Linked DNA regions of Homo sapiens: all the other regions are reported to be linked to region 4. Evidence: microRNA targets listed by miRTarBase, many of them from high-throughput screens and not tested one by one. Region 4 holds a microRNA gene; each other region holds the end of a gene's coding sequence. Distances are from middle to middle.
What was found. Region 4 holds the annotated microRNA hsa-miR-6731-5p (UGGGAGAGCAGGGUAUUGUGGA, at 1,424-1,445, opposite strand). A microRNA usually pairs through its seed, bases 2 to 8, with sites in the 3' UTR of a target mRNA and lowers its output. Matches are read on the target gene's strand: a 7mer-m8 pairs with bases 2 to 8, a 7mer-A1 pairs with bases 2 to 7 and ends in A, and an 8mer does both.

Region 1: the mRNA of UBE4B is a reported target of hsa-miR-6731-5p. Seed matches in the 3' UTR shown: 7mer-m8 at 3,602-3,608.
Region 2: the mRNA of BICDL1 is a reported target of hsa-miR-6731-5p. Seed matches in the 3' UTR shown: 7mer-m8 at 1,650-1,656.
Region 3: the mRNA of RAPGEF1 is a reported target of hsa-miR-6731-5p. Seed matches in the 3' UTR shown: 7mer-m8 at 4,380-4,386, 7mer-m8 at 3,515-3,521, 7mer-m8 at 3,506-3,512, 7mer-m8 at 3,062-3,068 and 7mer-m8 at 2,821-2,827.
Region 5: miRTarBase lists ARHGAP31 as a target of hsa-miR-6731-5p. Seed matches in the 3' UTR shown: 7mer-m8 at 1,653-1,659 and 7mer-m8 at 2,101-2,107.

What each region holds. Positions count from the first base shown.
Region 1 is chr1:10,178,886-10,183,985 of GRCh38, reverse strand. It overlaps UBE4B (ubiquitination factor E4B), which reads right to left. Exons shown (of 28, transcript NM_001105562.3): 27 at 4,424-4,570; 28 at 2,747-4,091. The coding sequence ends at 4,030. Among named protein-coding and RNA genes, the nearest start is that of KIF1B, 29 kb to the left of the region's middle.
Region 2 is chr12:120,092,172-120,097,271 of GRCh38, forward strand. BICDL1 (BICD family like cargo adaptor 1) reads left to right here. Exons shown (of 10, transcript NM_001367886.1): 10 at 829-2,323. The coding sequence ends at 990. It overlaps RAB35 (RAB35, member RAS oncogene family), which reads right to left. Exons shown (of 6, transcript NM_006861.7): 6 at 2,928-5,100. The coding sequence ends at 5,074. Among named protein-coding and RNA genes, the nearest start is that of RAB35, 22 kb to the right of the region's middle. RefSeq lists enhancers at 626-1,269, 1,270-1,913.
Region 3 is chr9:131,574,820-131,579,915 of GRCh38, forward strand. It overlaps RAPGEF1 (Rap guanine nucleotide exchange factor 1), which reads right to left. Exons shown (of 27, transcript NM_001377935.1): 27 at 1,956-4,828. The coding sequence ends at 4,678. Among named protein-coding and RNA genes, the nearest start is that of PRRT1B, 32 kb to the left of the region's middle. RefSeq lists enhancers at 4,120-4,169, 4,200-4,329, 4,530-4,609.
Region 4 is chr1:24,917,967-24,923,066 of GRCh38, forward strand. It overlaps MIR6731 (microRNA 6731), which reads right to left and starts at 1,450; the gene lies at 1,379-1,450. It overlaps RUNX3 (RUNX family transcription factor 3), which reads right to left. Exons shown (of 5, transcript NM_004350.3): 3 at 1,274-1,378.
Region 5 is chr3:119,415,955-119,421,054 of GRCh38, forward strand. It overlaps ARHGAP31 (Rho GTPase activating protein 31), which reads left to right. Exons shown (of 12, transcript NM_020754.4): 12 at 1-4,760. The coding sequence ends at 310. Among named protein-coding and RNA genes, the nearest start is that of TMEM39A, 45 kb to the right of the region's middle.

The DNA.
Region 1 (5,100 bases), 15 Mb from region 4:
TTGAAGTTATCTAATTGTTTAAAATGGGGGTTAGGTCTAGAGCTGATCTCAAGGCCAAAGTCCCTTCCAAAATGCTATGCTGCTTCTCCTTGGGCATTCTGAGCTATTCTGAACTTCTAGCATTCTGGAACTCTGCCATACAGCAGGAGTCGGGAAGAGATGAGGCTGGAAAGGCCAGATGGCCTAGATTCATGTGCCAGTTCCACTACATTATGGTTGTGGAGGGTTAAATTAATTAATATATGTGGCCGGGTGCGGTGGCTCTTGTCTGTAATCCCAGCACTTTGGGAGGCCAAGGCAGGTGGATCACGAGGTCAGGAGATCGAGACCACCCTGGCTAACACGGTGAAACCCTGTCTCTACTAAAAATACAAAAAATTAGCTGGGCATGGTGGCGGACACCTGTAGTCCCAGCTACTCGGGAGGCTGAGGCAGGAGAATGGCGTGAACTTGGGAGGCGGAGCTTGCAGTGAGCCGAGATCGCGCCACTGCACTCCAGCCTGGGCGACAGAGCGAGACTCTGTCTCAAAAAAAAAAAAAAAATTAATACATGTAAGAGTGGCTTGCACATAGAATATGCTCATGAAATGCAAATGATCATCACCAATTCAGAATGACTTTCTTCACCAACACTATCTGACACCAGCATCAAGCTCATAGGCTACTGTGTCTCCTTCAATCAAAAACGTACCTTGAGGCCTGGTGTGGTGGCTCATGCCTGTAATCCCAGCACTTCGGGAGGCTGAGGCAGGTGGATCACTTGAGGTCTGGAGTTCAAGACCAGCCTGGCCAACATGGTGAAACCCCATCTCTACTAAAAAAAAAAAAAAAAAAAAAAAAAAATTAGCTGGACATGGTGGCATGTGCTCTAGTCCCAGCTACTCGGGAGGCTAAGGCAGGAGAATCACTTGAACCTGGAAGGTGGAGGTTGCAATGAGCCAAAATTGCGCCACTGCACTCCAGCCTGGGTGACGGAGCGAGACTCCGTCTGAAAAAAACCAAAAAACAAAAAAAAGTACCTACTCAAATGAGGCCTATTCATGTCACTTTAGCACTCCAATCAAATTGCTGTGAAATTCACTACTCGATGTACCAAACCCAGAGGTTACAAAAAGTGAACGGTGTGCTCAGCTTTTTTTTCAAAAGATATTCAATCAATATCTTTTTAAAATCTACACAACACTGAGTCACAACACAAGGCAGATTTTAATCATCTTTCTCTCAAGGATCATTTCTCTTCTGCCAATCTGATTCTCTTATTTGACAATCTTCCTTTTAGCCAAGACCTACTTTTAATATATTTTGGGATTTATTTCAATATCCACAATTAAGAGACTGCAGACAAACACAAAACAGCAACTCTTGAGACTCTAAAAATGGAAACCCAAATCATCTTCCCCCTATAGATAGTACAGGCAGGAGACTGACTGTGTCTCTGTCCTATCCGGCAGGTCCTTGAAACCTCTGAATTATTCAAAACGACAAGTGCATATGGCGGTATAAAGCAGCATTTTATTACATTCACGGGGACAACTGGAGGATTAAAATAAGAGTTTGGAATCTGGGATGGAGAGGAGACAAGCAGTACACACTGGTCAGATAACCACACAAACAAAATTAGGCAAGATGCCAGTCAGTATCCTAATTCTACAGGCACTAAGCTTAGATATGTAAGTTTAGTAAAAAGTAAACCCAATTAAACAGAATCTTCTGCATGGTGAGAATATGGATTTTTTTTCTTTTTGCTTATATTGCCTAAAATTTTTGCTATCATGAACTTTTTCCTTATTTATTGTGTCTATCTATCTATCTATTTTTTGAGACGAAGTCTCACTCTTGTCCCCTAGGCTGGAGTGCGATGGCGCGATCTCAGCTCACTGCAACCTCCACCTCCTGGGTTCAAGCAATTCTCCTGCCTCGGCCCCCCGAGTAGCTGGGATTATAGGCACCCACCACCACGCCCAGCTAATTTTTGTATTTTCAGTTGAGATGGGGTTTCACCATGTTGGCCAGGCTGGTCTAGAACTCCTGACCTCAGACGATACACCTGCCTTGGCCTCCCAAAGTGCTGGGATTACAGGCGTGAGCCACCGCACCTGGCCATGTTATATATATATATATAAATATATATAAATAAATATATATGTAAATATATATAAATATATATTTTTTCTTTTTTGAGACGGAGTCTCGCTGTCACCCAGGCTGGAGTGTGATGACGTCATCTCGGCTCACTGCAACCTCCACCTCCCAGGTTCAAGCAATTCTCCTGTCTCAGCCTCCCGAGTAGCTGGGACTACAGGCGCTGCCACTACGCCCGGCTAATTTTTTGTATTTTTAGTAGAGATGGGGTTTCACCATGCTGGCCAGGCTGGTCTCGAATTCCTGACGTCAGGTGATCCATCCGCCTCAGCCTCCCAAAGTGCTGGGATTACAGGCGTGAGCCACCGGGCCCGGCCTGAGGAAGAATCTTGAAGGTCAGGGAAGATACTTGAGATAAAGCAGAAGAAACTCAAGAAAGGCAGAAGACTGAATATGACAAAGCTTACCCCCTCAAATCAGCAAACAGTGAAATGAGAACCAAATGTCGAGACTGACATGAATAAGAAAGTTTTCTTTTAAAAATAGCAGCTCCTAATTGGATCCAGGAAAGATCATTCACCACATGCAAACTCACTTGGCTCTTGTTTACCCACCCGCCCTGCCCTTTTTTTTTTTCCACAAAAGAGAAGAGACTCAAAGAAGATTTCTTCTGAACGTGTGTCACCATTTATTGTAGTTTGCGTTAGGAATTGAACAGAGGACATTGTCTGTGGAGGGAAAAAAGGAAAAGAAAAAAGAAAGTATGCTTTTTATAGACTTAATTTCTTCAGAACACTTTATGGTTTCAAATCCTTTTTTTTTTTTTACCCCAAAGGAAATTTGAGAATTCAAGTATGTTAAGTAGGGAGCAGTAATACAAAAAGTCTTATACTTGTGTGCGCGTGTGGCTGTGTTTGTCTGTGTGTGTTGAAACCGGCAGACATACTCCCACATTCTTGCACCCTCTTTTGCTTTGGTAAGGCCAAACACATCACACAAATGACCCTGCCTCAAACTCACACACCCAAGGGTTGAAGAATTGATTTACCCCCAGAGGATAACTGTGAAGGTTTCAAACTGTCACGTAGCATTAAAAAAAAAACCCAACCCTCATCTCCCCAAAATATAAGTCACATAAGTCCTGATACACTTACACCCCTAGATTTTGCTGCAGCTGCTCCTCAGATGCCGAAGAGAGGCTTATCACAAGGACCAGAGCAGCAGGATTTTCTTTATTTTGTTTAGAATAAAAAAATCTTAAAGGGACATTTCAAAAGAAAAAAAAAACTGAAATTCAAATTCTGAAAATATCTTGCCTTTTTTATTAATCATGTCATCTAACACCAATTAAAAAAACAAATATGTGAATATGATATAAAAATACGATCCCAGGATTAACACTTGGTAGCAGGCACAGTTATCTCACAGAATATATGTTTGGAGGGCCAGGGAAAGGAGTTTACTTTTGTTTTTGCTTCTCTTAAAAAAATCCACAGCAGTGCAAGTAGGGTCAGGAAGGGGGAGAGGGGAAAAAAGATTCTTTAGCAGCAAAATGTCCAAGGTTCTCTAATCACAATCAAATCAACGGATATTGGATTAAAAAAAAATTCATGAAGGGATGCTGCCCAGACCCATTAGCCATCACTAAAAGACTTCCGTTGCCCCAAACTGTGACATACGAAGGACATGCTTTATTACACAAGCAACCATAAAACCTGTCCCTTAAGCTTTTGACCGTGTTTGTCACTTAAATATATGTACAGGAAGCGGGCTCCTCTTCTCATCCATGTCCTTTCAGGTCTCAGCGTTTGCTCGCTCTGGGTGGGCCTGGGGTTGGTTTGCCACATTTGGCCTCCAACACATGAACGGCAGCTTCGCTGCGGCCGCTGCTTCTGCTTGCCTCGTTGGCCTTGGCTGTGTCTAGCAGAGGGTGGGCGGCGGAACGGTTTAGTGATCGCTGTTCTGTTTCTCTCTCATCCACGCCTGAATCTGCTCTTTCAGTTCTGGCACTGAGAAAAGAAAAAAAGGAGGATTAATGCCCCAGATGGGAGGGCTCTTCCTGAGAGAGGATGCTTGTCGCTCTGTATAAATGGGAAGAAAAGGCCATTCTTTCCCTCATTGAGCCGAAGACTCCAGAAGGACTGGGACATGAGAGGGAGGGACTGGATGTCTGCAGGGAAAAAGGGCCAAGAGTGTTTTGGGTCTTTGCTACAGAGTGTCATAAAGTAGGTAGTTTCTGCATTTGATAAATTTCCCTTCTGCTTCATCTCCAATATGTGACTTGGGCTTTATCTCTTGGTACTGACGCCAGCGCTGCACCTCAAACTGCACCCTCCTCTACCTGGTTCCAGCATGCTCTCTGTCAGCGTCTGCCGGTTGAAGGGGTCCGTGGGGGAGTTGAGCAGGTGCCGCAGGATGATGGAGCGGTCCATGATGGTGCCAGAGGGCAGCCGCACGGGGTCTGTCATGAGGGTGTCCATCAGAGGGTCTGCGGGGACAAAGCAAAGCAAACTCTAATCTACTGAGAGCCCACGACTGAAAAAGAAAACAAAGCCCGTTCTACCAGCGAAAAATCTATCCAAAGGAACAGCAATCAAAGGGCCCCTGTGAGGCCCCCAGGTTTAGAAGGAAATCAGCCTTCAATAAAGGCATATACATTGCCTTTTGTAAGGGGAAGGCGCTTCTTTGTCAGCTACTGCTGGGGGGAGGGAACAGAGAAGAAAGCCTGGGACAGACCCAGCAGCAGGCCCCACAGGCTCCGTGGCGAGGACGGCAGGCTGGAATTCTTTGTCTTAGGACTTCTGGGAATTCTTTGAAAATGTGAATCCCCACTTGCAAAGGCAGCCCTGCCCTTAGAATCTTCAGGGTTGTTATCTGGCTTTAAGTCAGGCTAAGCTAAGGATGTTTCTTCCTCTCAATTTACAATATGAGCTAAAAATAGGCAAATGTAATTTAAGACAGATTGTCTCAAAAAGCAGCTCTAGCACACCATTAAAAAATTAATTGCACAGGACGTCC
Region 2 (5,100 bases), not on the chromosome of region 4:
ATCTAGCCACCAAAATGGGAAGGGAGTGGAGCTGCCCTGTCCACAGGCTTCTCTATGGGAAAGGCTGCTGTTCTGTAAAACATGGTGGGGCGGGCTGTGGGGAGGAAGGCATTTTCTGGACCACATGAACGAATTCGAGTTGGGGGACGGTCCTACCCCAGTGAGGAAGCTGAAAGAAATGGGCCTGATTTGGTGCAGGACAGCCCCTGAAGACCGTGAGGCCCCTGGCCTCTGCCGCAGATGGGAGCCTCAGCAGCAGGGTCTAGGGCAGCACCCAGGGCATCCTTGCCACGTGAGGCTGCCGTTGGTGCCTGGGCATCAGTAGCTCAGGCTGGAATAATTGGAAAGGAAAAGGCAGGAGGAGCCCCTGAGGCCAGGCCATTGGGCTGGGGAGCTGTTAAGCTGAGGTGGCCCTAGGGCCTGCCGGGGCTGGGGGTGGCAAGCCAAACCGGAGGCACCAGCCAGGCCCACAGGACACAGGAGGCAGAGCCGTGAGGCCTGGTCAGAGCAGGTGGAGTGCTAGTGTGGAGACTGCAGGGAGAGACCACCCGAGCCATCAGCTGAGGACTGTGGCGGCCCAGCAGGAGTAACACTGTTGAGGAGAACCCAGCCCAAGCCTGAGGAGGCTGGAGGTGCCATACGGCTCCTGCGTGCGCCTGGTGTCTTGCCCACGCTCACCGCTTTCTTGGTCAGGGCAGTCCCGGCTGCAGCCTCTCACTCATCACATTCTCATCTCTCATCTGTCTGATGTTCCCACCTCCCTGTCCAGCCCCAGGGTTAGGTGAGAGCAGCTACTCAGTCCTGGCCACTGTCCCCTCCCCTCTGCAGGATGACATGCACAGGGTCATTGACCGGCAGCTGATGGACACGCACCTGAAAGAACGGAGCCAGCCGGCTGCTGCCCTCTGCAGGGGCCACAGCGCTGGGCGGGGGGATGAGCCCAGCATCGCTGAAGGCAAACGACTCTTCTCATTCTTCAGGAAAATTTAAGTTGGGAGGAGTCAGGCCACCAAAGATGGGTGGACTGGAGGCAGCTGGAAAGGCGGTGCAGGCAAGGCCTCCCCTGCAGCTTGCACCTCAGCAGCTGCCCTGCCCCTCATGCTAGGGCCCCATGGGTCCGGGAGGGCCTGCTCCCTTTCGTCGGTGGGGATGGAGACCTAGAGGTGGGGGCCTGCCTTGGCCACTGAAGGCTTCCCTTGGCCCACCGCCTGGCCAAGCCCACGCCTGGGCTTCTCCAGGACCACGTGCTTGAGCAGGGTTAGGCCACCTCCCAGAGGGGCCCCTTGGTGTTGGGCTTTGCAGCTCACACCCAACAGATCGCAGCCCACCCCCAGGCACTGCTGCCTCCTTGATTTTAGCAAATGGGGAACAGAAGGAATGGAGGCCCTTCTCTGCATGCCTCAGGAGGCCTGAGCCCCAGGGGCCTAGACCTGTGGGGGCAGCGGGCCAGGCCTGAGCCTCCATTCCTTCCCCAGCCCCTGGCCCAGGGTCAAAGGAGAGATGGCAGCCCCTCCCCCGCATGCATGCACCTCAGCTGGCAGGAGGCCAAGCCTCTGGCCGCAGGGTCTAAGAGCCGGGGCTTACCCAAGCTCAGCTGAGGCCACCCGAGCCCCAGGGAGGAAGAAGGCCCTGTCCCCCTGTCGCCACTGCTCTCCCTCCCAGCCTTCAGTCTCTGCCCCTTAGCAGGGCCTGGCCAGGCAGAGTGTTATCACCAGTCATCTGCAGGCTTTAGCCATCCAGCCCTTTCCCCTGCTCAGGGCTGGGGTTGGACGGGGTCTCCTCCTCCCACAGCTCCCTCCTCCACCCCTCACATACATACATAATTTCTTGGCCTAGCCAAACAAGTCCAGGCCACTGAATGGCACCAGAGGGGTCTGTGGTCAGCCACCCCACCTTGAGGGCAGCACAGGCACCACGGGGTGGAGGGGAGGGGGAGGCTGCCGGAAGCCTCCAGATGCTGCCTGCCTGCCTGCAGAAGCCTGCAGTGGCTGCTGCTCCTGCCTCTGCAGCCGCCCCTCCTCCTCCACCCAGGCCCCAACTCAGAGGCTCCGCGGCCCGGCCAGCCCTCAGCTGCTCACAACCGATTCAGTCTCCCTCCCTCCCTCACGTGGGGAAAGCACAGCAGGGATGCGCGGCAAGAATGTACCTGTAGATGTGTACATACCACAGTGCTGTAATTTTGTATGTAGCAATCATGTAAATACATGTATGGATTTTATAATATACATATATAAAAATCTATAAAGGCATATTTTTAGAAAAACAGCACACCACTGCTTCTTTTGAAAATAGTCTGAATAAGAATAAAATGAATTTCTACAGAGCTTCCTGCCTCAGTCTCTGGGTATTTGCGGGGGGCGGGTTTGGTCTGAATGCAGCTGACATGTCAGACTCACCACTGGCTGCTGCTGGAGAGGTAGCAATAGTGGTTCCCCTGCACCCGGGCCACCTCAGATGCTGGTACTTACTTAACCAAGGGATTTGGCCAGGAAGGGCATCCTCCCCTGCCCCTCCCGCCTGGCACTGCCCCCTGCCAGTGCTGCAGCGTGCCATCCGCAAGGCAGGCCTGCCAACGCTGCTTCCCAGGCCAGCAGGGCCCTAAAGCTTGGCAGAAACTTCAAGCCAGAAAGAAACCACGCCAGGCAAAGGCTTCCACTGCATCCTTCCAGGCATGTGGAGGATAAACACGGAGCTTCCCCTGGCATCTTACCACATGTGCTCCCAGTCCAACTAGGGGGAGACTCAACCCTGGCCCACCTGTTCATGGAGAAAATGGACCTGGCTTCTGGAAGTGTCCCAAGGGCCTCGACAGGCTCCTGTGCAAGACTTAGGCCAAGAACAGGGAAGAGCAGGACACGGTGGGTGGGAAGAAGCCACGGCCACTCAGCACATCTCTGGAGGGAGAGCAAACAGACCCTGGAAGAAAATTTGGCAGCTTGAACCTTTATTTTTAGTATTTTTTTAAAAAGCATAATTAGAAACTTTCAATACAGAAATACTCCTAGCAAACCATTGAAAAGTGGTGTTTGTTTGACAGGAATTTCACATCAGGTCCACTAGGACGTCGGTCCAGCCCTGAGTCCCCACCCCCACCCCATAACCCCCATTCATGCGTGTAACAGTGGGACAGGCACACTGTCATGACCAAAATCACCCCAATACCTGGGGCTGATGTCCAGCTGCCAGAAGCCATGGGGGCTTCTAGCCTGGGCTGGAAGCCCCCAGGAACCCCCCTCTTATTGCTTGAATTTGCAAGCACACCCTCGCTGGCCTCGCCTGATCGCTCAGAGGCCAGCATGCCCCCCGCCCACCGGCACAGGAGCCCCAGGCACCGTGCATCCTCAGGGCCCGTGGCCAACCAGGACAGTCCCAAGGACGGAGACCCCGCTTCTGCTCCTGCCGCCCCCGCCCCCGACCAGATGAGGCTGCCTGCTGGTCAGCCCTGCAGCCCCCTCCACAGCACCCTCCTTCCCAGGCCCATGGGGCTCCCCCACCCCATCCCGTGGCTCCAAAGTGAAGGCCTGTCCCAGAATCACCAGCTTTTGGCAGTTTGGGCAAGTGGAGAGTCGGTGAGAAGAAACCCCCAGTTTTTATTGATTAAAAACCCATCCACAGTGCTAACATGGAAACTGCAGTGTGATCTGTGATGTGATTGTCCAATCAGGGCTCTCCCTGGAAATCGCCTAGGAAAGGAAATCTAAGGAAACACATCCTGGTGTTAAACTCGGTTCTTCCCAGGTCACTTGATCCCTGTAGTGGGAGGGGAATGAGGTGTCCGGGCTGGGGGTCGGGGAGCAGTCATCAAGTGCAGATGACCCTGGTTGTTCTCCAGGGCACTGGGGCGTGTCAAAACTGGCCGCCCCAGCCATTCCTTCCCACCCGCCAGGAAATCCTCTTGCTACCTTTGTCCTGACAAAGGTTAGGACAGTGACCAGGGCCTGTCCATGGTCCCCACCCAGAGGCCCCAGGCATGCACTCCCCACAGTGCCCGAGGCTGCAGTGTAGACTCCTGACCTCCAGTGGGAGGCAACTCGGACAAGGGTGGGAGGCCCCTTCTCCGCTCCCACCAAGAAAGCCCAAGAGTCCAGCCCCACAATGGCAGGAAGCCATTCATTTTTTTCTAAAAACAGTGGACACAAGTGGGGTGGCCTCAACTTTTGCTGCTGTGCCAATCAAACCTCAGGGAAAGAAAATAATTGTGAGGAATTTAATTCACTTGATTTGGCTTCATTTTCTTGATCTGTTAAAATAATCCTCCCATAGCCCCCCTGCCAGCCCCATCTCTGCACGAACCTACCCCGACCTTTCTGTTGGAACTGAAACCTGTTGGTGTAAATGAGAAGCCATGGCTGCCCTGGGTTTGGAGCTCAGAGGCATCTAGAAGGCAGGACAAGAAATCTGTTGGCCAAAGGGCAAGACCTGCCACCTCTGTGGAACTGCAGGGCCTGCCTTGAGACCAGGTTCCCCAGCTCCCAGAATGGCTGTGGGGACAGGACAACGGGGAGGGAAGGGAGCTGGCACAGGCCCCGGAGAAGGGGCAAGACCCTGTGCAGCGGGGACAGAGGCTGACAACCTGTCGGAGAGAATGAGCAACGCGGAGCCCACTCCACTGGCACGGGCTGGCCGCAGACGCAGCTAGAACGTGCCGCTGTCTCCTCAGGACGCTGCTTGCAGTAAGATGGGCTGGGGAGGGGCGCGGGGAGGGTCTGTTGCAGCAGGCTGGCATCAAGAAGGCAAAAGCCAGAGCAGGACGTGGTGTGCGGCCGGGTAGAGCAATATACACTATGTACAGACTCTGCGAATCAGTCCGCTCGGCGGGCAGCGTCCTCGCCAGGTCCAGGCGCCTTGGCCGGGGAGGAGGGGGCACCAGTAGGGAAGGGCGGGCTGGTCCAACACCTTCTTGGCACTCGAGGAGGGCGGGGGAGGAAGTGCCGATGGCACCTCCCGATACAAAAACATGGAGAGAATTCTTTAAATAACGGCACGAAACTGAGACTGTCCCCCGAGGAACCTCCGTGGGCCTCGGGCTGGGGGAGGGACCGCAGTGCAGTCTCTGCAGTGGACTGGGTGCCATTAGCAGCAGCGTTTCTTTCGTTTACT
Region 3 (5,096 bases), not on the chromosome of region 4:
ATTATATCCAAGTATTAACTCATTGAAACTTTGTGAGACCTTAGAAAGCAGAGTCTGTTATTACCCCACTTCCAGCTGGGGAAACTGCCAAGCAGAGAAGAAAACCACTTACCCAGGGTCCTTTTGCTTATCAGCTGCAGAGTCAGGACACAGCCCTTTGCAGCCAAGGACATATTCCCCCAGACTGCTGGCAGCCAATGAGGGACTCAGATGGCCCGAACCACACCTTGACTGCTTCCTAAATAATGCACCCCTAGTGAATGAATGAAAAAAAAGGTTTGAATGAATGCTGGGGCCTGCCTCCCATCCCACAGGGGGAACAATGAGCAGTCAGCCATCATACCCCATTCTCCAGCCTTGCACCACTGGGGGCGGGACCCAGATTGTCGACCTACTGCAAGGTCAGAGCAGGTGGGAGGCTTGGGGCCCTCAGCTCAGACACCTTCGGGGGGACCGCAGTTCTTGGTTGGAGCAGGCATCTGAGCCTCCTGGGTTACTGGCTAAGCATGCACACTCGCAGGTCCTGGGCGGGGACACTGTGGGGGTGGGGTGGAAGCCAAGGTGTTTCCTCCGTGACTATGGCGGCTCCCTTGGTGAATCTCGCGGTCTGCCGGTCACCAAAGACCAGGGTGGGTCGCAGCAGCTGCTGCCCCGCAGCCCTGGTGGGAAGGCTGAGGCCTGAGGTCCATACCTGGCACATCACCTCCTGCTCACTGGGGTTGTTGGGGCCAGACCAGCTTCCTGGCATTGCTGGCAGGGGAGGGAGATGCGAGTGGAGGACTCAGGAGTGGACTGGTCTCTCTCGGGCTTCTGTGTGCTCATTGGTCGAAATGGACAAAAGCAGATAATGAGGAGCCTGAGGCATGAGTGGCTGAGCAATCTGCCCGAGGACACAAGGAACAAAAGAGAGAACCTGGGCTTCCATCACCTACGAGGTTCATGGAGGCTTTGGCGTTGGCGCCTGACACACAGGCAGCCAACAGCTCTGGATGGTTGATGCCTGCCTGATGCAGGGTCCCTTCTATCAGATCTTGTGATCAGCCCAGGAATACTTGGCCCCTTCCCTTTAAAGGGACAGACTTAAGCTGCTGCCTTTGCGGGGCATGAGGGGAGATGCCTCCTCCTCACCAGGCCTGACCTCTGCACGATCAGGTACAGAGAGATGCAGAGATCCTGGGCTTCCCCAGGGGCCGCCGTGGGGCTGAAAGTTGGGGACTGGGAACCAGGGTGAATATGAGGGCTGGCCCTGATCCCCGCCATCCCTGGGTGGCTATGCTGGGGTGCTTGGTCTCAGGTGCTAGGATGGAAACAATGGGGCACAGGTGGGCTGTGGTGTGGGAGGACAAGGAAGACAGGGAGACAAATGGCCTCCCAGAGCCATTGGGCCCCGTGCCTTACTCCGCATGGAGGGGACACAGCACACCTCGGGGCAGAGAAGGGACTGGAATCCCTGGGGCCTCCTCACTCTGTCCCTTGTAAGTGCAGAGGCTCTGCTGTTCTTCACTGGGGCTGGGCCCGAGCCTCTGTGTGCTGCCTCCTGGGCGGCAGAGGACACACCGCAAAAGGCACGCCATAAAGACAGTGCTTCCGGGCCCCGAAGGAGCAATTCTAGAGCCTGTGCCCCCGAATCCCACCCGAGGAATGCCCTTTTCATCAGGACACTGGGGTGAGGGGCTCTTGTGCATGAACCGACCTCTGGAGCACGAGCAATTCTTTGTCCAGTTGAATGCTTCTAGGGCACAAGGCCTAGGAGGGAAAGTTCTGGTGACGTCCATTTCACTCAGCCACGACTACCCCAATGGCAGCAAGTGGGCCTGGGAGTGGAGCTGAATGACCCCAGCCTCCCAGGAGCCCCGCCTGCGACAGGGGTCTCAGAAAAGAGATGGCAAGGCCAGCATGGAGCAGGCTGGGCTGTCACTGTAGTTGCACACATGCAGCTGGGCGCGGACATGGCATTGGGCAGCTTTCATCTGTGTTTATTTTTTTTCATATAAAAGTTACATGTTTGAAATGTCTGCAGGAAGATGCCACCATCAGACAGGTTAGCTGGGGCATATATATTACAATGTAACCCTGTGGAGGTCGTGGGGCCGGAGCGGGAAGATGCTCCCCAGAATCGGGTTCAGGTCAGACATGGTGTGTGCCTGCCCCTCCTTGCCCCCCCACACCCCGACACCTGCAGGTGAGGACTGACCTCTGCAAGGAACGAGTCCTCCGCCTGGCTCACGTCTGTCTGTGAAGACTGATTCCCACAACCCGCCCGGGCCCCCCAAAGGAACAGACGAGCCACGGCCAGGCCGCAGCACTGAGCACAGAGCTCAGCAATAACCAGGGCCAGGCTTAGGGGGCACAGGGGGCTGCCTGCCATCAATAAGTTAGACATACATCGCACCTTGCCGTCCTCACGCAGGGAGCCCCTGGGCACTGCTCATGTGCTGCCTGGGCCCTGCTGCTCAGAACACCAAGGGCTCCCAGTGAGGGCCTGGGGAATTGCCTGGGCACACTGGGGCCAGGCACAGGGTCTGTTCTGAATTCAGGGAAGGTGAAGAGACCCCACCTCTATCCAGCTCAAGCCCAAGAACAAGGCAGACAGAGCTGTGGACAGCACCCGACCACAGACACGGTTCTGCCTGCTGCTGGAGTGAGAGGCCTGGTTTCTGAGGCTGCAGCATGGCACTGGCATTGCCTGTGCTACAGATGGGGACTCCTGCGAGTCTCACAAATACAGGGAGAATTTCAGTTCACACAACCCAAGGGCCCTGTGTGCAGAGCGGCCCTCACACGCGCACAGCAGCATTCAACAGAGCTGGGCAAGGGAAGGGGAGAGAGAGTCAAGGATTGAAATGAAGGGACTTCAAAAAGAAGGAACAAACTAAAAACCCAACCCACACACAATACTGTTAATAAGCCAGCGACTCTACACACACACTCCTTAAATAATAAAGTGACAGGTCCCGGCTGGCCCCGCAAGACCACCGCAAGAGGGGGTCCCGCCACCAGAGGGGGTCCCGCCTGCCACTGCACGGCTTTCCTCCCTCTATCTACAGGACAAACAAAACACGGGAGAGGGGAAAAAGCCCACATTTTCTTCTTGATAAATGCTGTTCAAAAACCCATGAAGGACTCAAAGTGACATGGTGGTTTAAAAAAAAACCTAAATGATCAACAGATGTTGCTTTCTATATTTTTCCTTTGTTCTGTTTGAACTGGGCTAAGTAAGCACAGTTAGACCCTGCTGTTCACTTGACCACGTCCTAAACCCGGGACAAGTGAGCACTCATTCATGCACAGCAGACCCGGAGGCATGGGCTGGGGCAGCACAACTGGGTTCCCGCAGCGCCCTGCCTGCAGGCTCATGCTGGAGGCCACGGAACCAGGCGGCACAGGGCAGATTCTGTTTGTCAAGCGCCCCACAAGCCTTGCCCAGATTGTCAAGCTCAGCAGCGAGAATGGTTTTGACGAGGAGGATGGAAACAGCATCTGCTCTGGAAGCCGCTCTGGCGTGGGGAGAGTGGGGAGAGGGTGCGCTTGCTGCAGCTGCTGCCTTAGGAGGCTCCTCTGTGGCCAGGCTTCTGCCTCCCTGCACCCTGAGGGACCATTCGGGTGCCTCAGGGATGCCCTTCCCTCCCAGGGGCACTGACAGCACTGGCTGAAAGGTCTGAAGAGCCAGAGGAGGAGCCCTGCTGGCTGGCCCAGGATGGGGCAAGGAGGGAGGGAAAGCCAGGGGATGGGGAGGGACATGAGATGGAGTTTAAGGCACACAGCGAGCGATGGAGGAGGGAGGTGCTGGCCTCTCCCCTCTGAATTAACTCCCCCAGGAGCTCAGCTCTGGCCTCAGTTTGGTGAGGTTCAGAAGACTCCCAGCAATAAAAAGTATTTCTTGGATGATCAAGTCCTCCCTTACTCCAGCCTCCTCTTCTCAGCTCCCCAGGTGGTGTGGGAGGGGCCCAGTGGCCTGGGGTGGGGGGTAAGGGGCGACGGGATGACAGAGACTGCTGCTGCTCTCAGGCGGGCAAGGGAGGCCCTGATGGCGCCAGTACCGCGGGGCAGAGCACCAGCTGCGGGGCTGCTAAGGCGTCACCTGCGTACCTTTCCGGGCCTGCTGAAAAGCTCACACCATCCTCCATGCATCAGAAGGGGAAGCGGAAAGTGAAAGGATCCTCCCCCGAGTCTACTCTGCATTCTGCCCACCCAGCTGCTTGCCCCCATTCCAGGGCCCCTGCAGGACAGGCCACCCCAGGAGGCCTCCACTCATTTGAGATTTCAGAAGATTCAGGGACCCTGGAGCTTAGGGAGGGGGAGCACCCACCACTTCCTTGGTCTGCTGATGAGGTCTCTGCTGCTCTCTCCCTGGAGGGGAGTGGGTGGAAGGTCAAGAGGGGAGAGATGGAAGTAAAAGCAGAAAACAAAACCAAACCAGAAAACCACCGGTTTGTAAATTGGCAACAAGACCTGCCTGCTGGCTGCCCTGAGGCCCACGGGTCTGCTCCCACAGAGGAAGGAGGCAGGAAGCGGCTGGCAGGCTCCAGCTCCCGCCCGGCCCCGCTGAGGGCTGGCCAGCCTCATGGCTCCGAGGCCGGGACTCCTGCCATGCGCCTAACAGGTCCAAGGTCCTCTCCGGTCTGGGAGCTGCCCTCTGCGCCCCTCGAGCATTCTCCTGGATCCCGGCGTCTGCTCCTAGGTCTTCTCTTCCCGGTCTGTTTTTCTCCTTGTTATGTTCCTGGGTTTAATTTTCAGAGACAGTTCCCATAGGGCCTCCTCAGCCAGGTGGTCACTGAAGTCATTGAAGAAGTTTATAATGTCGTCGTTCCTCCGCATGTCATAGTGCCTGGTGCAGGGGATGGGGAGCAGTCAGTGAGCACCTGTGTGGGCTGGATGGCCCGATGGCGCCACCCTCCTGGAAGGTGCCGCGGGGACCATCCCCACAGCCTCGCAGCAAACGGATGCTGCAGGGGCTACCGTTGACCAATGTGACAGAGGGGACACCAGTGCTCAGAGACGGTGCCACCAGCACATGGAGCACAAACAGGGCCCTGAGGCTGGGCTGCTCACAGGGAGGGGGCCCCAGGTGATCCCACTGCCCCCAACAACGCATG
Region 4 (5,100 bases):
ATCTCAGCAGGAGGGAACCAGCAGGAGTGTGGCCAGGGCAAGTGCTGGCTGGGAGCTGACGGTGCAGGCCTGAGGATGCGTGCCGGGGCTCAGGGCTGGCAGAGGTGACCCTGAGAGCCCTGGAGGGAAACTCTTCCAGGGCTGCTGGACTCAGCTCCAAGCCTTTCCCAAGTGGCCAGATGCTGGGATGGGCCCAGGAATTGGATGATGGGGTGTCAGGCCCAGCTGACTCCCAAGAAGGGAGGGGCCAGCCCAGGGCTAGGCCTCCTGCCCCAGGCCTCCTGCCCCAGGCCTGCTCAGCCTAGAATCTTGCCTCTGGGAAGACTGAAGCCTGGGGCGCCTTCCTGCTCCTTGCACAGCATTAGGTCCTATTCAGGTACCCAACTCCCTCAGGCCTGGATTCTCTCCTCACTGGAACTTGGGTGACCCCTCTGGCTCTGCTGTCATCAAGATCCCATTCAATAGTGACTGCTAAAAGGTCTTCTAAACTACAAAGGGTCACATTTCTGAGAAAGAGAGGGGTGGGCCAACCTTCAGTGCACCAAGCTGAAAATGCCTTGGGGAGGTGGGATGGAGCTCAGGAAGCTGGCTGGCTCTATTTCATTCATTCATTCATTCATTCAGTCAGTCAGTCAGTCAGTCATTCATTCATTCTGTGGACACAGAGCCTCAGCCTACCCTCCCACTTCCCCAGCCTTAATCTGACCTTCAGCAAGCAGAGAGAATTAAACACAAACTCGCTTTGATGGACCAGAACTCCCTGCTCATAGGGTCTGGGTGCCCGGACTCTGGGTGACCTGAGCAAGTCACATGCTAAGATTCAAAGACTCAGTTTCCAAGGAAGAGGCCTGGCCTCACAGCCAGACCAGCCCCTGACTTTTGATCACTCCTGCCCTCCATGCATCCCTCAGCCACCCGCAGAGAAGCTGGGGGCAGAGTAAAGCAAGCCTGGCTCAACCTCCACCCAGAAACACACAAGCACCCGACAAATGCCATATCTGAAAGCTTTCTCCATCCTTTTCCTTTCCTTGACTCCCTCAGTAGTCTCCATGGACAGTCATCTCCACTCCCAGCCTCCTCGCTGGCCTCCCACGGTCTCAGGCTAAGCCCAGAGGGTTTAGGGGTTTGCCAGCAGGCACGCAGTGTGTGGGGGCACAGAGCCAAGGACTGCAACCCCCCGAGGAGGGCTCCATCTGTCTGACCTAGCTGCTGTCCTTCCCGCACTGGACCCTCCTCCCCCGCGCAGGGGCTCAGGGGGCTCGGTGGCACTTACGTCTGGGCTCCCGGGGTCCGTCCACGGTCACCTTGATGGCTCGGTGGTAGGTCGCCACTTGGGTGGGGTTGGTGAACACAGTGATGGTCAGGGTGAAACTCTTCCCTGGGGAGAGTGGGGAATAGAGGCAGGTGGTTGGCACCTGGAGCTTCCACAATACCCTGCTCTCCCACCTGTATCTACCCCTGGAAGCCCCTAACTGTCAAGAAGGGGCACTCTGTCCTCTTTGAACATGGGCAGAAGATAGGGCTCTGGGTGAAGTTCAAGCTCTTGGGCTTGGCATTCAAGGCCCCTGGGGGTCTGACGCCAACTTTGTCAACCCCCCGCCCCATGCCGTGACCACCCTGGCTCATGTTCCCCTCTTCTTGGCCTTTCTGCTGTCTCTTCTATTCAGAGACCCACACGATTTTGTGGTGGGGAGCAGGATGGGTATATTCTATTTTCTGAAAGTAATTGGTGATCTTTGTAGAAAAATTCAAGAACATACAAAATATAAATAAAGAAGAAAAGACACCCCCCCCCCACGGTTCCACTAGCTGGAGATAGACACCGTTACCATTTGGTGTTTTCCCTTTCAGCTCTTTTTGTATGGGTTTGTATATTTACACAGTCGCAGTGGTACTAAAATACAGATTTTCATACTGTTTTTTTTTTCATTTAACCTCACATCAGAAGCACTTTCCCACGTCATTAAAACTCCATAAACTTCGTTTTTAATGGCTGCAAAATATTTCAACTCAAGGAAGCCTCCTCATCTTTTATTTATCTACCTCCTTACTCTCGGGTATTTACATCGTTGCTAATTTCTTATTGATGTGTGCAGCTGGAGCTGAAAAAGGACTGATTTGGGAGCTGCAGACATTTCTTCTGTAGACACAACTGTTATTTCCAGAATGTTCTATTTTTAGATAGACATTTGGCTCCAAAGTCTCCATTCAAAATTCCTGAGAGGGGAAAAAACTTTTAAAATACTACTTTTTTTTTTTTTTACCATTTAAAATAAAATGAAAGTGACCTTCTGTTTATAAAAATCTTTGTCTGCATCTCTGCTTATTTCCTTAGAAGAGATTCCAAGAAGCGGTGAGTGATTTCACGGCAGCAGAGGGTTGGGACATATTACGGGCGCGGATCCCTCTTGGAGTGAGATGACTCTCCGGAGAGATTTAGTCGTCACCCTCGCGTGTGAGGCTGCGTCACACCCCAGGGATGTGTCTATCAAGATGGAAGATCTTTTACACGCTCTTGATTTTGTTTGCCTTTTTTTCTATTACTAGTGAGAATGAAACTTTTTATATGATTATTATCCATCATAATCCAACACAAATTACTGCTTCATGTTCTTTTACTTTCCTGTGAAGGTTTTAGTGCCTTTTAAAAATTGCTATATATTAAGCTTGTTAATACTTTCCATGCTGTATTTGTGGCCATCAGTTTCCCCGGGCACAGGCCTGCACATTTTGCCTTCACACGCTGGGTGGTTTTTCATTTTCACTTCTATTTCTCGTTCTTCTATCGTTTTATGTTCAGACGGGTTTCTCCGTGTAGAAAGCAGTTTATGAAGATTTACTTTCGACAGTCTTCTCTCTACTTTCTACAGTGAATTCTCTGATGTGTCTGGGAGTTTGGGGGTCTGGGTAAGAGTCCTCCTCTCACCCTATTCTCTATTACGATCCACAGCCTCATGCTTTATGAGATTGGTGGCCGGGAGCGGGGGAGATTTGCGGATCCCCCAAGCCAGACTTTATCCCCCTATCCCTGCCTCTGGATCCCACGTACAGGCCTGGGAACTCCCTGTGGGTAGGGGCCAATGGTCTCGCACTCTCACCTGTACCCCAGGGCTGGCACAGGATGGTCAAGGAGAGAGGCTGCCCAAGCGCATCCCTCTGGTGTCCCCCTGACACGCCTCCAAAGTGAGCAGGTAGGTTTCAACAGCCCCACGTTGCAGGTGGGAGATGAAGCTCAGGGTGGAGACCAGTATCTCACAGTTCTCTTTGCATGGCCGGGTACTTGTTAGTCAACTGATCAAGTGAAAATTCTAGCCCCAGAGGCAGGAGAATCCGGAACAAAATTAAACCAGCCAGGCTGCCAGGAGCCATGCCACAGGACCCAAGGCCCTCTGAGACACCAGGGGGAATTTAAAGCTCAAGACCCACTGAGTGTCACTCCAGCTGGGAAATGAGGGGCTTCTCTGGAAGCCTTTTCCTAAGCCAGTCGGCTGAGGCAGGGATAGAAATTCTGACTGCACTTGCCCCCGGAGCCCCAGGTCAGAACAGACCTGGTCTCCCACTCTCAGGTCACAGGGGCCACTTTGTATGATTTCTGGAAGCAGAAGTGCAGATGGTCTAGGGAAGTGCCAGGCAGATGCCTCGGGCTCCCTGCCCGACCCCTCCTACTGCCTTTCCTCACTCTGAGGTCATTTCTCTGCTGGACCTCTTTCTCCTCCAACCAGCCCAGCACTCTCCTGGGGTCCCTGAGCCTCTGACCCTGCCAGCATTGTCCAGCACCTTCTTGGTTATGACGGGGAGTTTAGGCAGACAGCCCAGAGCCCTAGGGGCCAGACTGGAGACACGGAGGACTAATGGGTCCCAGTGCCCTGCCACAGGGCCCCGGGCCCACAGCAGCATTTGAAAGCTTACTAAAACCCTCCTTCAGGTCGCCCACCTTCTCAGTCAGGCCTTCCCTGGTCACTTTATCTGAAGTAGGCATTTTTAATTTTAATTAATTTTTTTGAGACAAGGTCTTGCTCTGTCACCCAGGTTGGAGTGCAGTGGCATGATCATAGCTCACTGCAGCCTGGACCTCCCGGGCTCAAGTGATCCTCCTGTCTCAGCCTCCTGAGTAGCTGGGACAACAGGTGAGCGCCACCATGCCCGGCTATTTCTTTTTTTCCCTTCCTTCTTTTCCTTCCCTCCCTTCCTTCCTTCCTTTCCTTTCTTTTCTTTCTTTCCTTTCTTTCTTTTTTTTTTTTTTCAAGCTTTTACTATGTGCCCAGGCTGGTCTTGAACTCCTGGGCTCAAGTGATCCTCCTGCCTTGGCCTCCCAAAGTGTTGGGATTACAGTCGTAAACCACTACACCTGGAAGGCATTTTTAACTTGGCTCCGTAGAGTTGAATGAGCCTGAGAACTAGGGTAGGAAAAAATTACAATTGTATTGTCCCTAACCTCTAACTGAAATTTAGCATCACTCTCAAGTACGAGCGTAGGCAACAAACCACAGAGGTATTATCAGCCGTACCTGTGACCTTGTCACCAACAGACGTCACAGATACTTACATATCACATTACAGTTGCTGCAGATTGCTCTAAATATCTTTTATGCTCATCACAACTTCAAAACCATGGTTGTCATTAGGCCCAATGCTAGATCTTATTTAATACATTGAATAAAGCAGCACATTTACCACAATTTTTAAAGTATTTTGCTATGTTTTAATAGAAATGGTTTCTATTGTAATACTTTGTATTTGATTTTATACCTTAAAAATATCATTGTTCTGAGAAAGGTGTGCGGGCTTCACCAGCTATCAGAGGGGCCCACAGGGCAAAAAAAAAAAAAAAAAAAAAAAAAGCGCTAAGCAGCTCAACCTGAAGTATCACAGGCCCTACCACTCCCTTTCTCTATTCCCTGCACCTGCTGGAATTTTCTCACAATGCATATGCTTTTAATAATCCATCTACTCATTTTGTCTCCTTCTACTAGATTATAACCTCCCCAGGGGCCCAAGTTTTTGTCTTGTTCATGCAGTGTCTCCAGCCCCTAGGACGGCATCCGGCACAGAGTAGGTGCTCAACAACATTTGTTAAATAAATTAAGGGCAGAGATAATG
Region 5 (5,100 bases), not on the chromosome of region 4:
AAGACCTCAGAGCCTAATCTTATTCAGTCCTCCTTTCCCCATTATGGACCACCTGCCCCCTTCATCCACAGTGACAGATTCCAAGGTCCTGCTGTCCCCTATCAGAAGTCCCACCCAGACAGTTTCCCCTGGCCTTCTTTGTGGAGAGTTGGCAGAAAACACATGGGTCACACCAGAAGGGGTTACACTTAGGAATAAAATGACCATCCCTAAGAATGGCCAGAGACTAGAGACCTCAACCAGCTGTTTTTACCAGCCTCAGCGGAGATCAGTAATTCTGGATGGAAGAAGTGGGAGGCAAATAGAATGATTTCGGTTCACCTGCTGGTGTCTGAAAAAAACCGTGATTCATCTGGAAGTTATTACAGGGCCAGCTTGCCATATTCCAGGCACACGTTATCAAGTTTGGGCCTATTGTGGCCTCTGACTTCTCTTTCTTCAGCCTTTTGACCACTTATTAATTAGTCCATTTGCTAGAAGAGTGGTCAAGGGAAAAACGAGAGATGAAATTTAGTTAAGTCTATGTGAGCAAGTGAGAGAAGGTTAGGTAAGGGGAGAGGATGGAATGCTTGCCTCCAATGAACTTTGGAGCTTGTATGTGAGTCAGATTGCTCCCCTATTGCTATTATCTATTACTCTTGAGAGCTGGCTGTCCTTTGAAAGAAAGAAGTAATGTTCTTTGAAAGAAAGAAAAATCTCTTGCTGTGTCAAACCTCAAAATGTTGCTATTGGGGTTAGAAGGCCTCCTCTTTATGCTTTTTAATGCTCTTTCAAACGTGTTCTTTTAGACCAGTTTTCTAATAAGCTTTGTAAAATGTACTATCCAAATTAGAAGCGGATTTGGAAATGCAAACTAACGTGCACTTAGATATCCAAGTGGGTGAGCTTAGCCACTCTTACCCATGCTCTTTCCCTGGAATCCCTGGAGACCTGTCCAAGATGATTTCCATATACCAGCATAGAAAATCAGAATCAAGAGCAAACTCTGAGACTGGCACAATCCAAGAAGATTTCCTGGCTCTGGCTTTTAGTAATTTGGGACTCCAACTGCCACTGTACTGGACTGTAATTTATAAATCCAGTAGCTACGCAGGGTGGAGGCTGGGCTGAGGATTACCATAATGAAATGTACTAAATCTTCATTTAGGTATGCAATTGTGAAGTGAAGGCATCTGCTTTCTTTACAGTATCAGAGTCCAAGAACAGGATGTCACCATAGATAAAAGCCTCATACAAAGGCAGAACTACACTCCAAATTTAATGTGTTTAAATTGGTGGGGCACCAGCAGAAAATATTCTAGCTCAGCTTTACTCTTCTTCCACACTAGGCTGGGCCCAGCAATACAGGAGAGGATGAAGGGAGGAGCTCCAGGAGGCGAGGGAAGAGCCCTAGCAGGGCGGCCATCACAACCACTCACTGAGAGTTGCCCTTCTTAAAAATGTATTTTATTTTAGCCAGTGGGTCCCTTCCTTTCTCCTTTCCTCTCTACTGCTCAAGAACAGATTTGAGGCCAGGTGCGGTGCCTCACATCTGTAATCCCAACACTTTGGGAGGCTGAGATGGGTGGATTGCTTGAGCCCAGGAGTTCAAGACCAGCCTGGGCAACACAGCGAGACCCCATCTCTTAAAAAATAACAGACTTGAGGAACCCCTCTCCCTTCCATAATTCCCCTCATCCACCGCCCACTCCAGGCACTCACTCAAACTTGCTCTTCAACTCTGTATACAAGCAGAAGCAATAAACCAATCTGATTTTCTTTTCAATTATTTATAACTTTCAATGGTTCTTTCCTTTCCAGCTGGCGAGAGAAAGGAGAACTAATATACCTGCTGGCAGATTTTTGGTGCTGCCCAAAAAAGGACTTCACAGGGCATCTCTTCTCAGGTTCAAGCCTGGCTGAATTCTGCCCAGAAGCTCAGTCATTGCAGAAATTTCTCTAAGGGCTGATAGTACCTCTGGGTAGGCGTCACAACCAAGGCTGGTTCTGGGCTTAGTGGGGGCTGAGATGAAGTTACCTCCTCCAATGAGAAATTGGGAGCTGATGCCCTGCAACAGATATATATTCCTCTCTCTCTCTGTCTCTCTATCTCTCTCCTCCCTCTCCCTCCCTCCCTCCCCGCCAATAAGCCTTACAAACAGTTTTGAAATCTTGTTCTGTACCTTTTAAGCCAGTGTCTGTGGCGAGGGTGACTGGCAAGTCAGCTGATGAGTTCTGCCTTCTGAGAGCACTGAGTGAGCAAGGCCTTTCATCAGTGTTTTGGCCTTCTCATTGGGTGAGGAAGACATTGAACCAACAGCCAACGAGATATGAACCTGTAAGAAAAAAGTCCTAGAATATAGTATTTTTCCCCAGGCCAGCAAAGTGAAGAAATACAGTGGTGACAGATGAGAAAGGCCATGTTCAAGAGATCTGAAAAGTACATTCCTGCCTTATCAGAAAATGTGTCAGACAGGTTTTATGTCAGCCTCAGTGCTCCTGCGGTGTCGACGCTCTGATAAGGACCATGTTCCAGTTAGAATGCGAGGGAGGGAAAGAGCTGCACTTTGCTTCACCATCAGAACTCTGAGCCAAATAATGAATATGTAAACTATTTTATGATTATTTTAAATGTTTGTTTGGTAACATTTATAAGATCTATTTTTATTTGGGGATAGACTGAGAAGCCACCATTTACATATTAACAAGTGACTTCAGTTCTAAGGGTTGAGATGCCTGTGTGGATTTATAAAATGGTTGCAAGATCTTTTAGACTCTGACATTTATAGCATCACCTTCAGGAACACAGTTCTGGGGATGTCATCATGAGACACACTGACAGCTGTGGAGATAGTCCCTACTCTCAGCTTTCCTTGCTAGTCAAGTCCAAAAGGCCTTAGAAGCTGACTCACCTTCTCAGCCAGAGTCCTGCTGCTCAAGTGTGGACCTCCACTTTGACTCTCACCCAGCCTGCCAGCCATCACAAAGGCTTTCATAAACTTCCTGTGGTCTGGGCTAGCCTGGCACTGATGAAATTCCATTCTAAAGAAAGAAAACTCATATTCCTCCCCCCCACAAATTGTTCCCCCAAATGCTCTGGGATTACCTATTTCACCACTCATTTGAGTCTCCGAAAAATGAACTCCCTGAGAATGGCTGGATGGGAATCAGATAGTCTGCTTCCATTCAGGAGAGGGACAGAACAGGAGCTGCTGTGTTTAGGAGGATTTACCTGGTGCCCTAGAAAGGGCTATGCAATCAAATTCTCAAGGGCTCCTTCAAATCAGCTATCAGTCCTCAAAATGGGGGTTGCTGATGTTAAATGATGGATTTGCAGTGAAACGCATGCATGTACTGACGTTTTCTTTCAGCATTAGTGGTTGCTTAAGAAAATAGTAACCTATATTTTCTGCTACACTTGGAATATGAAGAAATCTGAACAAGAACCCCATTAAGACACCTAACCTAATCTAAACCCTAAAATTCAAAATATTGTCCAAGTCAAAAGTCTAGACTCTGAGGACATTAAAAATGTAAATATCATCATCCTTAGCAAATATTTATTGGGAGCTTAGTAATAGTGCACTGGGTACCTTAGCACTCCCAAATCATTCAAGAGTCTAGTGAAAAAGGGGGAGGGATGGCAGCAAATAAAACACCCCCATAAACAACCAGGAGCAAGGTTGAGAACCATTAAGTTGCCAAACAAAAGCAGAAGGGGAAAAAGTGTGGCAACAAGCATCTTTTAATAGGATAGTTGACGGTATTCAAGTGACCTACTGACTCCAAATAATCAAATTGAACACAATTGCAAATCCAATAGAACATCCCAGTGAGACACTCGGGTATTTGAGAACTTTGCTTGATTTAGAAAACTGGAAAGTGGCAACTAGGCTAGAATAGTGGCAACTAGGTTCGGAGGTTTCGTGTGGTCATAATTGGTTTGGTGAAGTGTGAGATCTCTGCAAATGAGCCAGGTAAGATCAGTATTCCATAGTGCTTGAAAAGGGGATTTTAGAGACTTCTGTCATCACAAAGCAGATTAACTCCTAGTTAATGATGAAGCAGTAGGCCCAAGATAAACTGTTCAATTCAAGATAAATTGTTCTTGTCAGTGTTTGGCATATGATAATCACATTTGGCTAAAATTGGATGGGACAGTCATTTGTCTACACAGGCCTTCCATTCCTGCATGAAGAGATACTGGGGAGCATACAATTATTTTGTCCAGTATTAGAGTGGGAGAAGTTCTCAGTAAGTCCAGTCCCACCAGGATTTATTTGGGCCACATTCTACCACGGCCAGTCCAATCTGATGACCACATGAATTGGGGTTAAGTGTTGCTAAGACTATGATTTTAGACATGTCTGGCAGGAAGGTCAGCTCAAAATGTGGCATGACAAAGAATATGTGCTCTACTACCAAAACCTTTCCTAGCAAAACAAGGCCAGAAGAGGGAGCAAGCATCTTTCCAAGCATGGAGAGGAGGGGGCAATGGTGGAAGGGTGATTGCCTGAAATCAGTGCCAGTACAGATAGCATAAAATTGGGGGCCACCACAGATTGGCTGGCTACTGTGTAGATCATTTAGTAATCTTGAGGTACATTAATAATGCAGAGATTACTTTTCTGTGAGGGTAAGGGGGACGTAGCTAAATATAAGAAGCTTACAAGGTCCATAGCCATGTATTTTACTGGATAAATCACAATGCTTTGCAATAACTTAATGTCATAGTACTTTCTGGCTTATAATTCTGCAAAGTAAAGCACTTTTTCAAAGGAGTCTATTGGAAAGCCACATGATTTCAGCTGTGTTTTAAGCTCTACAAATACGTTTCCAAAGACATAATCAAGATGTAATTCTATTCATTACAAATATAAATATTAAAACTATCCATAGAGACATTTAAGTAATTAAAACAGATTTTTATGCTTTAAAAATAAATACTCTAATAAATGATATAAAATATAATGCTTATGATGGAACTATGAGCTAGAGGAGGACATGGGGTCACCAAAATCAATAATCAGAAAAGTAGATTATATGCACCAGGTTCATTGTTTTAGTTTGTTCTGTTTGATGTCATTTTTTGTTACTTCAATGTTTGATCTCACAGAAAAA